Linked DNA regions of Homo sapiens. The protein of the gene in region 2 interacts with the protein of the main gene of each other region in a biochemical or structural test. Each region holds a gene or a part of one and is shown on either strand. Other genes may lie near its edges.

Evidence for each region.
Region 1: the proteins of PLP1 (region 2) and MBP form a complex in vitro, tested with the Homo sapiens proteins (one study listed by BioGRID).

What each region holds. Positions count from the first base shown.
Region 1 is NC_000018.10:76,982,760-76,989,788, reverse strand, and holds part of MBP (Golli-MBP), read left to right. Parts: intron 1-876; coding exon 877-912; intron 913-1,261; coding exon 1,262-1,294; coding exon of another isoform or gene 1,295-1,699; exon of another isoform or gene 1,700-2,086; intron 2,087-4,578; coding exon of another isoform or gene 4,579-4,585; intron 4,586-4,894; coding exon 4,895-5,014; intron 5,015-5,636; exon of another isoform or gene 5,637-6,062; intron 6,063-7,029. UniProt on the Homo sapiens protein: The classic group of MBP isoforms (isoform 4-isoform 14) are with PLP the most abundant protein components of the myelin membrane in the CNS. They have a role in both its formation and stabilization.
Region 2 is NC_000023.11:103,772,338-103,779,839, forward strand, and holds the start of PLP1 (myelin proteolipid protein), read left to right. Parts: upstream 1-4,502; 5' UTR 4,503-4,658; coding exon 4,659-4,662; intron 4,663-7,502.

The DNA of each region.
Region 1 (7,029 bases), on a different chromosome or scaffold from region 2:
GGCAAGCGCTTCCCGACTGTATCTGCCACGGATTGCACCGTGCGCTCCGTGCGTTCTCCAGAGAGCTCACTTCTCTTGAGATTAGGCTCCCATGTAACGCTTAGCCTAAAAACACAGGCTTTGCAACCTATGGAGAGTGCTTGCCATGGGCTGGGAGCGGAGGGGGCAGCAGAGAGAGCACAGGGCATTTTTAGGGCATTTTTCGGGCAGCGAAACCGCTCTGTCGAGGCTGCCATGGTGACTGAAGACCACGCACTTGTCCAAACCCACAGCGTGCACAGCACCGAGAGAGCCCTAAGGCAGTGTTGCTAATAAGGGAAACTGTTCGGGGTATGTGGAAACTAATTTCTGCACAGTTTTTCTGTAAACCGAAAAGTGCCATGCAAAACGAAGACGATTAAAAACAAGAACAAAACCACAGGCTTCTAATTCCAAGATCTCAGTGCAGCAGACATTTTATGCTCGTATTCGATAAGTGCACTTAGGAGCTGCAGACCTGGGGACATCCCCTTGGAAGCTCTGAATGTCAGAGGGCCCGCTACTCCTAGCCCCGGAAAGGGCTCACGGTGAAGCAAAGTCCGCCGCCTCCCTCAGTGTCCCAAGATGGGCCCATTCCCCAGCTACGGAGCCTCTGGGAGGTGTTTTCCATCCTCTGAAACACTTCCTGAGTGCTCTGGGAGATCTGCATCATCTAGAATATTTTCAATCTCAGGTCTATACTTCTTCACCAACTAGGACAGAAGTGGGGAGGCTGGGCACCCGGGTGCTTCTGGCAGCTGATGGATGCTAGCCACCCTCAGCAGGCAGGAGCCCGTTAGGAAATGGACGGCGGCACAGGGCTCCCAGTGCAGCCCACGGTTCTCTGTGTCTTTCCAGGTGACGCCTCGCACACCACCCCCGTCGCAGGGAAAGGTAAGACCTTGGAATGTTTTGATTGATCATCACTTTTCTGATAGACCTTCTCTAAAATCCCATAATGTACCAAAGAGAGAGTTAGGCTCCGAGCTACCAGAATCCATCCCAAAACGTGTTGCCAGGCAGCTCCCAAGTAGAACAGGTCGGCAGATCCATGCACCCCTCCTGTCCCTCCCGCACCTGCACAGCCGCTGTGGCCCTGAGCCTGCGGCCCCCCTCGGAGCTCCGGGTGGAACCTGTTTTTACCACCTCAGCTCCACTGTGCTTTGACTGTGTTTCCTGTTGATTGAAAGGACTTTCCCTTCACTGACCACCATGTCATTATTTCTCTGTCTTCCTCATGCAGGGGAGAGGACTGTCCCTGAGCAGATTTAGCTGGGTAGGTGACGAACGCACTTCCATCGGCTTCCTCTTCCGTCCCAGTCCTCACAGCCCCGCAACTTTTGTGTTCTGCTCTGTTTCGGTTGCTTCCTGGCCTCCTTTTCTCTCCTCTCGAGACCTCTCTGCCCACAGCTGGGATCGGGCCGCCTTGTCTTCCACTGGGGAAATGAAACGTGGTCTTCCCTTCCGGAAGGTCTGGTCTCTTGCTTCTGTGCCGGGGACCCAGCCCTGCAAGGCCAGATCCTCTTCTCCCAGAGGGTTCCCAGGCGACGTGACTGGTCTCCCTCCCAGGGAGGGAGCAACACCACGTCCGAGAAAATGTTTAACTTCCTCCAACACAACCAGTGCGAGAAGCCCCAGGAACCCGCATGTGGAAGTGGGACTGGCTGGCCCGTCTCAGTGACCCCAGATGCTGACACTGGGAAAATGATTCTGCTGATGAACAGAAAAAGAGGCTAAATAGAGTTGCTCGATTTATAATAACCTCATTAATCCAAAGATTTTTGTTTTGTATGTGTTTAAATAATAATTAAAACATAGATATCAAGCCATCCAGAAAATCTTCCTTAGGAATTTTAGGCTGGTTAATACTGAAAGCAAACTTTCAAGGAAGGTTTAAAATGGCCAATTTGAACTTTCTAGTGAAAAAATTTGGTGTCTGAGCCAAATTAAAATGCCAATCATTATATTCTAACCAAACTTACAGACTTTAGTTACTAGCAAATACCAGATATGATTCTTACTGTATAAAAGTTATAATTTTAGAATAAAATGGAGGAATAACCACCAACGTATTGTAGATAGGTTGTGTCTGTCTCCGAAACTGCAATGCTCTCATACGCTAGAACAGAGCCTACCTACACTTTCTGCTCAATTAATAAGCATCATATAAATGAATGAATACATTTTAAAAGAAAAACAACAAGGAGAAAGAACAGGAAGAAAGAACAGGGAAAGAAAACAGAAGGTGGGGAAGAGGAAGGAAGAGAGGGAGGAAGGGGCAGGGTACTTGAGAGACCATGAGGATCCCAGATCAGTCCCACACATGATTACACTGAATTATGAACTAAGATATTTACCGAAACGTTTTCCATTAATGCATATTTGACTTGCTTTTTCTGACCTAATGAATTTGCAAAACGATGACAATCATGTAGCAAATGTACATGGACTAGTACTCACAATTAATTTTTTATTTTCTATGCCAGCAGGAGACAAAGATGATAGAAGAATGAAATTCATTTTTGACCCAGAAATCTTATTTTAGCTACTGCTTTATCTGCTCTTAATTTTCTAGGAGTGGACTTTGGGGCCGTCGTGCCGGATCCTCCCTGAATGTGGAGCGATGGGGGGTTGCACACAGGCCGTTCTGCCCCAGCAGCTAACAAGAAAGACCCTTGCATTCCTCCCTGCATCTCTCCCTTTTGGGTCCTACTAATGTCTGTTGAATTTCTCTTTTTTCCAAAGCAAAATCCTTCTCTGCATTTTGTCTGCTTGTCTGTTTCCCAGAGCCGCAGGACTCTCTCCTTGTCTGGAGTTCCAGAGAGCCCCCACTTTCTCTTTCTAAGCTGTGTTGTGTGTTTCCTGGTACATTCTAGGTTCCCCAAAGATAAACATGACTAAGGATTGGAAAGGAGGAAAGGCCGCGCAGATTGTTAATCTGAAAGTCAATCCCCGGATTTAGCTCTCAAAAATGCTTTATTTTTGGAGAAAAGCAATAGAGTAAGACAGAAGGACTTAACGCTTGCAGGGAAGTGGCTTTCTGCCATGTAGAGCCAGGCTGGCAACCTGCCCTCTGCCATCAGGGAGTGAGCATGAACCTGGAAACCTCTAGGACGCAAGAGCGAGGCTGGCTGTCCCCTCGTGTGCAGTGCTTAGACCTTCTTGCCACACATCCCGTCCCTCACCTCACTGGATAGCCCCCGAATCAACTGTTCACACGAAAGCAGCTGCCTGGTTCTGAGTGGCCATGCTCACTCCCAAGCACAGGCTGAATGAAAAGAAAACTGTGCAAGTAGCTTGTATGGTGGGAAGCCCCCAGCAGAGGCTGAGGGTGCAGCCAGGTGCTCTGGAAGCCTTGAGGCCTCTGGTGTCATCTTCCTCACCTCTAAATAAGAGATGGGCTAGGTTGGTCAAGGTCCTCCCTGTCCTAAAACACTTTAATGAAATGGAAGAAAGGCTGCAGGCTGATAGAGGAGGGACAGTCTGGTTTGGTTCCCTCAAGTCTTCAGGAGAGGGCTCAAGGACAGTCTCCCATTTCTTGTTGGCAAAATGTAAAGTGCAGTCTGGACCCTGTCCATTGAGTAGAGACTCAGGAGGCCAACCAAGATCCCTGAAAAGCTAACAGCGTGGTCAGCCTTCCCACAGACAGTGCACCCACCGTGGGAGGACACTTCGCCCCCCATTGTTAACGTCCACCGCGCCCAGACTCCCACAGCGAGCTCCTTCCCTTCCTCCCCATGTTTGCAGTGGAGTTCCCACTCGAGAAGACAGCACAGTAGCAAGTAGAGGCTGGTCCTGGGACACTCGCACCCATGTGTGTCAGGAAGCCCCTGCGGTCACACGGCCCATGAGGAAGCCAGAGGGGCTGCTGGGGCTGATGAGGCCAGGGCAGGGCGGCCTGCTCTTCCATAAATGACAGCTGGCACCAAAGCCCAGAGCTGGCAGCCTCCACCTGAGGAGTGGCATCTCCATGAACGGCTTGTGTTCTCGCACAGCCCCATTGCGTAGATGAGGAAACTGAAGCTCAGAGAGGTTCCTGCCCTTGCCCAAGGCCACACAGCCGGATGAGCTAGAAAGGTGCTAGGGGACTGGGAGGTGGGGGAGCTGAGACGCTGTCCCGCTGCTGCCAGGATGCGGCCGCCCCCCGTGCCAGCCAGGCCTGCCTCCTCCCTCTGTCCGGCTCAGCAGCCCCGGCCTCCTGTTGCTCCCAGTCCGAGCTATGGCCAAGGGAGACTGATTCCTGCTCACCCTGGGAGAGAGCTCAGGATTTTGTCTCAAAACCTTATAAAAGATACGAGGCTCGACATTTTACTAAGGCCGAGGACTCTTGATCTCCCAGACAGATCCTAGAACCACAGGGCACATGTGACCAGAATCCAATCTGTGCAAATCAATCAGCAAAAGGAGCCCCCAGCAAAGGCGCAGGCCGGGGCCTCCGGGGACCGGCACCTACACAGCGCACAGCCCCCCAGGGTCCGAGTCCTCCAAACCCGTGTAGGCAGGAGCCTCCTTACCTTGATTTGCTTGATGTTTGCTAATCTTCTCTTGAACACCCCACAGCGTGAAGGTAAGCAACTGTTCCCTAAACGACTTAGATCCTTAAAATATGTGTGGTTGGGCCGCATATCTCATGAGAGAGCCTCCGCCCAAACCAGAGCCCTCCTCTCTCTGCGGCCAACACCCTGGTAGACCTGGGGGAGCAGCCTCTCCCGCCCCCACCCCCTCAGCGTGGTGCTGGCCCGTGGCTCCTGAACCACTCACCAGTCCAGTCCGGGGCCTGGGCCCTTCCCCGGGGCCCTGGTGGCAGCTCCCAGTGGCTCAAGCAGCGTGCCCAGCACCGCGGGTGGAGGTTGAGCTCCGTGGTCTTCTCTTGCAGGGGGCCGAAGGCCAGAGACCAGGATTTGGCTACGGAGGCAGAGCGTCCGACTATAAATCGGCTCACAAGGGATTCAAGGGAGTCGATGCCCAGGGCACGCTTTCCAAAATTTTTAAGCTGGTAAGGTACCCTCTGCTCAGCTCCACTGAGCGGGGACTAAGGGCTCCCAGAATCCCCAACTAAGCTGAGTACAAGGGTGGCTGCCGCCTCTGGCTCAGCCGCACTGTACCCTGGACGTGCTCTGTCCCAGCAGGCGTGCAGGGGCTCAGGTGGCATTGCCCACCCGCATTTACGCGTGGATTTCCTCCGAGATGCATGTGAAGCCGGAGGTGCTTGAGGAAGGGCTGCGCCTGGGCTGGTTCAGGGGCCCTGGAGCAGGCGACTGACCTTGACTCTGGGGCAGGGCCCAGCTGGAGTCCAACTTGCTCATGCCCAGGGGTTGGGGCCCTCAGGGAGCTAAAGCAGGAGTCAAGCAGACGTGGGTGTCGGGGGGAGATCCCTGGAGCCACGGGAGGGAATGCCCAGGAGACCTCCAGGGAGTGGGGAGTGTCCCGTCGGCTCATGAGGACCTGGAACCAGACCCAGGACGAATGCCAGGCCCGCTGTTTATAAGCTCTGTCTCTGAGACTTGGTTTTCTCATCTGTAAAATGGAGGTAACCCGCCCACTCAGCTCACAAAATCGCTGTGAAAGTAAAAGGTAGTGACAAACACAAAACGCGGCTGGCAGGTGCGCGGCTCGGATTCCTTAGATAAGCAGTCACCTTTATTATTGTTAAACGTCACCCAGAAAACCCTTAACTCTTAGACAGCGGCTCTCATTAAGCAAAAGGGGAGGCACATGAAGCTCCAGGCAGGGCCGGGAGGGAACCGTGAAGCCAAAGGCTCTGGGAGCCCCCAGGCACCTGCGTTTGCATTTTCATCCTGGAGGAGACCAGGCTTCTGGGGCTGCTCCCCGGGGTGCAGAGAGGAGGGGTCTTTCTTGGTGTGTAACATACTCATTGATTCAGTCACCTGACCTTTGACTCCATGTATTTTGTTGAGTCTGGATGTGTGGTGTGCTCTGCCCAGCAGCGGGGATCCACATGAGCACAGACATGGTCCCCCCGCGTCCTTGGTGAGTGCAGAACCTCTGCCGTGAGCCTCGATTCTGGGAGGTTCTGGGAGGTTCTGTGGACAACAGGCAATTCAGGGCACAGCCCCTGCTCTTAAGGATAGCCGGTCTTAGGAGAAGCTTTTAATATGTGAAGTGAGCAGGGAGTAACTGAGCTGCTAAGTAAGCAGCTTTATGTCAGATGAAGTGGTAGGCAGGATCCACTCCTCAACGTAAATTCTGAGTTAAGAAAAAAATTCTCCAAATATTCAAGTCTCAGGGCCATCATGCTGTACATTGCCGCAGTTCTGGGATGTGGCCACAAGAGGGCGGAGATGAGGCTCCCCGGGGAGCAGTGTCTGAACCCAGCACTGCAGTCAGGACGGCCCCGCCCCACCTGGCCAGCACGTCACCTGCCTCTGAATCGCCTGGGATGCACGCCCAGACCCCTATCTGCGCTCCGCCACAGCCTCACTGAGTCAGAATGTCCAAGGGCGAACTAGGTGTTGCTAGTTGTGATGATTTTGCAGACACCGTGCTCACCTGGGAAACACGGATTCATCCCATCTGGAAAACTAATTACTCCACTACCAGCTTAAGGACTGTTAGACACACCGGGAGAGCTGAGTGCTGGCTCAGAGTTGATGGGAGGGCCCAGATGAGTGAGGGGCCCCATTTAGCAAATATTGTCCTTGCAATATATGCAAGGCTTACAACCAGTCACTCAAAGATGCTTGCAAGGCCAGAGCTTACCAAGACCACCCTGAGGAACAGAAAGCTGCATTTAGATCTGCACATTTACTGTGTGCAAATATAACCAGTGTACTATACACATGTGTTTCCTGAAATAAGTTCAGTATTTTCCCTGAACTTTTTTGTAAGAAGCTTTTAAAAATTATTTAATTTCTGTAGAGTTCAAGGGAAGCTTCTATGTATCAAAGCAAATTTCAAATCATATGGTTGTAATTAAATTTTACTGCATAAAAAGTTCATAACTGGCCTACTATGGCCATATGGCTGAATTAGTTGACTTGGAGCACTTCC
Region 2 (7,502 bases):
ATACCCAGAGGTGCTGGTGGAGATGTTAGAAGACAACAAATACACAAAGAAACTGCTAGGTGTGTCTCAAAGAGTCTCAACATTTCTTCAAAGCACATATCCTTGGCTCCATTTTAAAGATAGGCAGGTTCAGGGGAAGTATAGGAATCCTGGATCTGAAAGGTGTTGGTTCTAGAGATCACTAAAGTTCAGCCTCTATTTTTTAAATGCTTATCAAACATTTGCAGAGATACTCTGTCACCCCATCTGGTGATTATTATTATTATTGTTATTATACTTGAGCATAGGCACTATGGTAAGAATTTTATGTTCAGTATCTTGTGTAATCTTTTTTTTTTTTTTTTTTTGAGATCTGTCGGAGCGCAGTGGCACCATCTCGCCTCACTGTAACCTCTGCCTTCCAGGTTCAAGCACTTCTTGTGCCTCAACCTCCCGAGCAGCTGGAATTACAGGCATGCACCACCATGCCTGGCTAATTTTTATAGTTTTAGTAGAGACAGGGTTTCACCATGTTGACTAGTTACTGACTAATTTGGAACCCCACTGATCCTACAAACTGCCGGAAGTTTGCCTCTGCCCTGGGTTTCAAATAGCGGCCTCCTACTTAACCTGAGAAGTGTAGAAGGTTGAAAACTTGGGCTACAGCAGCCCGAAGCCTGTCCATCCTCCCCCAGCCCCCGGCTGTTGTTGCTCAGGGCAAAGGCTCTCTATTCACACATTTTTTCACAGCAGAACAACCTCCCAAGCAACTTCCAAGCAATAAGAGTCTGGAGACAGGCATTCTCTAGAGATGGCTCTGGTCTTTGCTTGCTAGGTGCCATTGGGAAAATTGTCTCAGTATCCCATCAGTCAAATTGAACAAATAACATTGGTTCCCCAGAAATAATACTAGTTTTATTTCTACTTTGCTCAGAAATCACATCAAACAAGCATCCTCCCTGCAGGGGCAACCCTGCAAAAGCTGGCCAAGTTTTTATGTTGGTGGAGGTGGGTTCTGTGGACAGCTTGTTTCTTCACATTGCTAGTAGCTATGTGGTGCTCCTCAGGCATTCTTTAGCTGAGATTTTTCATGTGATTATTTTGGCTTCCAGGCTACTCTTTACTCCATCCCAAGCCACGGGCATCTCCCCCTCACAAATACACCCCATGGCCTGCCCCTATCCATCCTCCCATTGTTCCTTGAACCTTCAGGAAAGGCAGAAGATCACCCTCCACTCTCTACCCCTGTCTGCCAGCTCAAAGTATGTGACATCTCTGGCCCTCAGCCCTCGGTTCTCTTGGCCAGAAAGGCATAGTCTAGCCAATCGGCATGAAGTTGGGTGTGGAAAGTTCTAGCCACAGTACATAGGACATAATATACTGCCTGCCTGCCAGCCAGCCAGTCTTCTATGCCAGGGCTAGGAAAGCTGCCTTCCAAAATTTGGTCTGGGAAGACATTATCCTGGGAATGAGAAGCAAAGCCTCAGCTCTAGAAGCCCAAATAATAGCAGATGACCCAGGCTTTCACTGGTACGCGCTTCTCTCTTCCCCTTTATGTTCTTCTCTGTGCTCAGGGAGAAGTTGGCCACTAGATTGGGCACTTGATCCCTTATCTAGTTTTTCCTGGGAGAAATTCACTGGACTTCTCTGAGTTTTAGAGTTCAGTCTACACAATGAAGCAAGGAGAACCCACTTGATCTGTGGCCTTCAATAATCTGATACTATGGGATCATAGAGCAGAGAGTGGAGGTAATATTCAAGTGTTTTCGAGTTATTTGCAAGAAAGCTGCACAGTCAAACCAAGCCATGATCAAGGGGGCCCAGATTCTCTGAGGTACCATCAGAATTGCATGAAGCAAACTGTTTACGAGTTTTATACAATCCTGCATTGTTCCCACAGGCACCCAGTACAGGCAGCAGGCTGCACCAAGAAGGCTGGCAGTGCCTCTTGAGGAATCCCTTGGCAGTGCAGGAGCCTAGCTGGACTCAAGAATATTTTGCCAAGGGCACCCAGCAGAACCAATGGAAGCAGAATCACAGAAATAGGTGGGGGTATGTAGATAAAAATGGGCTCTGGAGGACCTGGGAAGATACCCTATGAGGTCTGTAGGGAGCCCTCAGGAAAGGTCTGCTGACGAGGTACTGAGGCAGAGTGTCGGGATGTACAGAGCAATGAGAACACACTAGATTCTAGGGAGTTGGGAACCTTAAGGCACTGGGATGAGTGAGACACGGTCACCTGGCTGGGTCCCTTTTCTGGCCCTGGGCATAAGAACAAGCATAAGAACAAGGCGAAGACAGGGAATGTGGAGAGAGAAAAAGGAAACAGAGACAGACACATAGAGAGAAACAGAGACAGAGACAGGTAACAGAGACAAAGAGATTGAGACTTGGGGAGAGGATAGAATGAATATTAAGGCAATGGAGATGGAAGAAAGGAGAAGAGAAATGTGTGTTAAGGGAATGTGGTTGATAAATTGGTATCTGTGGGTTTATTGGGAACACATATTTTCTTTCCAGTAGAGTTGCTGTCCCCAGAGCTGCTGCTGAGAACTCAGGGGAAGCTTTGTGAGAGGGCTCAGTCTGAGTGATGTCCCCTGTGTGGAGAGCTGTCTCATCTATTCGAGCTGTGAAGGATCATTTGCCTCATCCTCTAAATCTGAACTCCCAAAGTTTGGGCTCACTCCTGCCATCTGATGAGCTGAGGAGACACATTTGGCGATTTCTTGCTCTTGGTCCTCCCCCTTCTCCAGGGCCATTCCGACAGTGACCATCCAGAAGTTTATTGCTGGCTCAATCCTACAGTTGAGCTTCCAAAGCAGGCATAGTCTGTGGCTGGCGAGCAGGGCTGGGGAGGGCGAGGGGCTCTAGGACCCTTTTCCATCAGTCACATGGCCTTAGTCTCGTCTGCTCTGGAAAGCTACTATTATACCGTTTTGCAAGGGGCAGCATTTCCAGAGATCCTTTTTTCTTGGGGCTGATACAAGAGCAAAGGATCTAGAGTTCTAGTACTCTAAGCAAGCCTCAAACGGTGCAGGATTTGGCCCCAGTGGGCCCACAGGGGCATCTGCCAAAGACTCGTCCATTTCCTAACAGCAGAGCCCAAGCCAGTAACATGTCCAAAGTCACAGCCCAAAGAGAAAACTGTAAGACACAATCTTGCCTTTCTCCCACCCCAGGAAGGTACTAGTCTCTGCTCAGTATCTCCCTCCTCTTCTCTCCTCTCCCAAGGCAAAATCACAGGAAAAGTTCCAGGAGACCATACCTTCCTTCTCCGGAGTCTTCCAACAGGTGCCCCTCTTATTATATGCCAGCCAGTTGTTTTAAAGGCCATCCATGGGAGGACACCGGCCTCTAGGTCAAGGGAGCTGTGAAGGGAGACAGGACTGACAAGGAGCCCAGACAGACACTGTTTAAGATTCACCTGTTCTAGAAAACCTTCCCAGGCTGATCCCATCTAGCAGTGGGCATTTAAATACCTTCACAGTCTTTAGAAATAGCTTATTGCTAAGGCAGGTTTTATATAGTATTTCCCTGTTTTTGCTGCTTAGCCATTTTTGTCTTACCGCTTCTTTCTCTGTGGCAAGGACTATATTTCGTTTCTTCTCTCCACCCTCACTGCCACCTGCTGCTTCACTCTAACCCACTCCCTGCCTCTTGTCTGCCTGGCTTAAGCTCTCTGATGAAGATATTACACTCTCAGGATAGAATACTGACTACCTGATTCCCAGATCGTGTTCTTGACTTGTCTCGAAGTCGATTATCCTTCTTGGAAATCACCCACATCTTCAACGCTGGCCTTTTCTTTAACCTAGTCTGTGAACTTGCATAGGTCTTGCCCACTTCTGGGTCTTTATTATTGTAGCTATAAAATTATTACAATTCTAGCCTCCCCCAGCCTAATCACAATCTGTTCATCGAATTGACAGCCTGCATTTTGTCTTCATGCAGTTGAAACTGAGAAGGATTTGGAGGAAATTATCTTAAAAGACAATTTTTTCTTCTCTATTGTGTTCGTAGAGCTGGGGGTGGGGGTGGGGGAGGAACGCTTATTTTCCAAGGAATCGGGAGGGGAAAGGTGGAGAGGGCCAAGGGCAGCTAGGAGTGATGTGGGGAGCTGGAGCAGATTCGGAAGGACTTTGGGAGCTAATATCTAGGTTTTTGACTCTGAGCCCCTGTTGGGGCTCTCACTTCATGGCTTCTCACGCTTGTGCTGCATATCCCACACCAATTAGACCCAAGGATCAGTTGGAAGTTTCCAGGACATCTTCATTTTATTTCCACCCTCAATCCACATTTCCAGATGTCTCTGCAGCAAAGCGAAATTCCAGGCAAGCCTTAGGGAAAAAAGGAAAAACAAAGAAAATGAAACAATTGGCAGTGAAAGGCAGAAAGAGAAGATGGAGCCCTTAGAGAAGGGAGTATCCCTGAGTAGGTGGGGAAAAGGGGAGGAGAAGGGAGGAGGAGAGGAGGAGGAAAGCAGGCCTGTCCCTTTAAGGGGGTTGGCTGTCAATCAGAAAGCCCTTTTCATTGCAGGAGAAGAGGACAAAGATACTCAGAGAGAAAAAGTAAAAGACCGAAGAAGGAGGCTGGAGAGACCAGGATCCTTCCAGCTGAACAAAGTCAGCCACAAAGCAGACTAGCCAGCCGGCTACAATTGGAGTCAGAGTCCCAAAGACATGGGTAAGTTTCAAAAACTTTAGCATTGAAGATTCAAGAGGACACAGGAATTCACAAGAGAATTTCCAACTTTGGGGTTCGGGGGTTCCATGGTTTAAATGAGTCGTGTTTTGGCACTTGTTTTCTTTTTAAATTCCTTAACATTCAGTTAGATTAACTCCTTCTCCGCTGTACTAAGCATGATGCTTTATTACCAAAGAATTCCAGCAGCACGTGGAGAGTCCCACAGATCTCTGGAGAGAGTGCCCAGCTGGATGGATGTGGTCATGTGTCCTCCTACCCCCTCACTTCCCTCTATCTTCTCTTTTCCCTTGGTTCCAAGGCCCTGGCAACGGTTGGGTCAGCTTGCCCTCCTGGTTCTGCTGGAGGCCACTGAGCACTGTCTAGCCCTCAGATGTACAAAATAACTGCTTGCTTGATGCAAACTTTGAACCATGTTTGGCATTAATAGGAAGCTGGGGATCGGGCAAGCTGGACTCAGGCTTGGCTATGGCTGAGGAGGCCATTCTCAGGTTCAGGAAATGAAAGTAAAGTCCTCAATGGCTTGACCATGGGAAACAGATATGGGTAGGAGTGTGTGTGTGTATGTGCATATGTGCATGTGTGTGCACATATAGGGTTGATCATTTCTAGCAAATATCACAGACACAGCTTTCCTGAAGGCTCTTTGCTGTGACAAGGAGGATGCTGGGACATTAGGGCTCTTGCTAAGTTGGCTGAGTATTGAGGGCTTTTCTAGGTTCCGTGAACAAAGACAGAAGCTATGAAGTTCTGGTGGTAGTTTCTACTCAGAGTAATGTGTGCAGAGCACAAGGGTCTTTGTCCCTATTGGACTCCACAGAGTCCTGTAGACATTGCTAACATTTGGCAAAACAAAGATAGCAGCTTAAACACATCCTAAATGAAATGAGACTCAGTTGCCCCATGTATTCCCTATCAAATGTAGCATCCAGTAGACAACATCCACAGAGATCAATTTGCAATTATACTGAGCTGGTTCAGCCTTTAGGTTGTTTCATCATGAAACACAGAGAGAACACTTTGAAGCATGTGTTCAGGTAAAACAGGAGGGAGAGCACTGGACAGGGAGTCGGAAAAATCAGATTCAAATCCCAGATCTGCTACTTATGAACTATGTGACCTTGGACAGGTCACTGAATCACCACTTCCTCATCTGGAAAATGGGGACAGCAATAACTACTTTGTCTACTTTCAGGGTTGTGAGAATCAAGTAACAATAATGTCAAAGTCCTTTGAAAATGGGCAAGATCTATAACAACTGTAAATCATGATAATACCTACTATTAGACAATAATGTGTATACAGGCGAACTCTTCCTCTTTCCAGGGTGGTTGGGTTTTCTTTGCGTGCTTGGGTCAGAATCATTTGACCAATTATGTGTGACCAGATGAGAGGTGAATGTTGGAGGAACTCAATTCCTGCCCTGGGTAACATCAGGAATCCTATCTAATGTCAGCCGAGCTGACTGGATAGGTTGTGCATTAAAAACAGAGAGGGAGTAAAGAAGGATGTTGAATATTACTTCCTCAGGGGATGAAATCCCTGAGGAAAGGCAGGAACAAATAAAGTGACCACAGGGACAATTGCCTGTTATGGAGGCTGGGTGGTTTCCTCCAGAGGAAGAGTGCCACAGATAAGGGCACGATTGAGGATGCACATTGGGTCCCAGGTCCTAAGGGTGGACGATACTTGGGCCAGGTACATATGATGGAGCAGCCACTGAGTTTTCATTTATTCAATAACAGAGTATCTAAAGTACTTTGAATTATAGATCATCTCTAACAAGGTACTGGACTGCCACTACTTCTGATGTGGAGTGCACTGCTGTTCAACAATTGCAGTAAACACATTGTATCATGGAATCCGGGATTGGAAGGAACTTTAGAAGTTGTCTGAGCCAACCTTCAATGCGGGATTCATTTTTACAACAACCAATTAAATGTTCGTACAGCCTCTGCTTAATCACCTCCAGGAACAGGGAACTTACTACTTCAACCATATAGAATCCCTTAGGATTGGAAGCAAGGAGGAACACTGATTCAGTAGTGTCTGCACAAAAGATTTATGGGGAAAATGATAGCTCATTAATTTTTGCCTTGATTTGGAAGGGGAATGTTCCAAGTGAGTCTTTGGGATAATGATGGAACCAGAAAGGAGCAAAAGAGCAGTAGCTGATTATTCTCTGCTCTGAAACACAATGCCATTATTGAACAGCAAAACATTGTCTGCAAGCCTGTTGTCGTCTGAGAACAGTGGCTGTTACCCTGGTAACCAGACTGTGATGCCTCCATCCAAAAGTGGCTGTTTGCCAAGCAGTGTAGTTTTGGCTGGCTTGCAGTAAGTGGGTGTAGCCCAGGCAAAAAGTGTGGCGGCAGAGCGGGGGTCCAGTTTTATAAAATGCCCGAAGACTAACTGAGTCCCATCAAAATGGCAAGAATGCCCCAAGAATACCAGGAGCCAAAAATAAACCAGATCCCAGCCAGCATGTTCACCTAGTCTTCCTGGAGACACTGACTAAAATAATCAAGTGCAGCCTTCTCTACCTCACTTCTCCCTTTGGCCGTGCAGAGCCAGAGGAGTTCTTGGAAAGCCAGGCAGTTTGAAAGGTCTACCCTGCTTTAGGGGGCCTTGGGCTTGGCTCTGAGCTAGGAAAGCCAGAAGTTTACTTAACAGGCTGACAACTGGAACTGCTCTCTCAGAGCGATCTGAGTAATAACAACCTCAACCCTGGGAGGTGGGTGGGAGGGGAAATATAGTCTCCAAACCCATTAAGGTAGAACTCCAGCCAGTAACATCACTTTCCCCCATTGCTTTTGTCTATC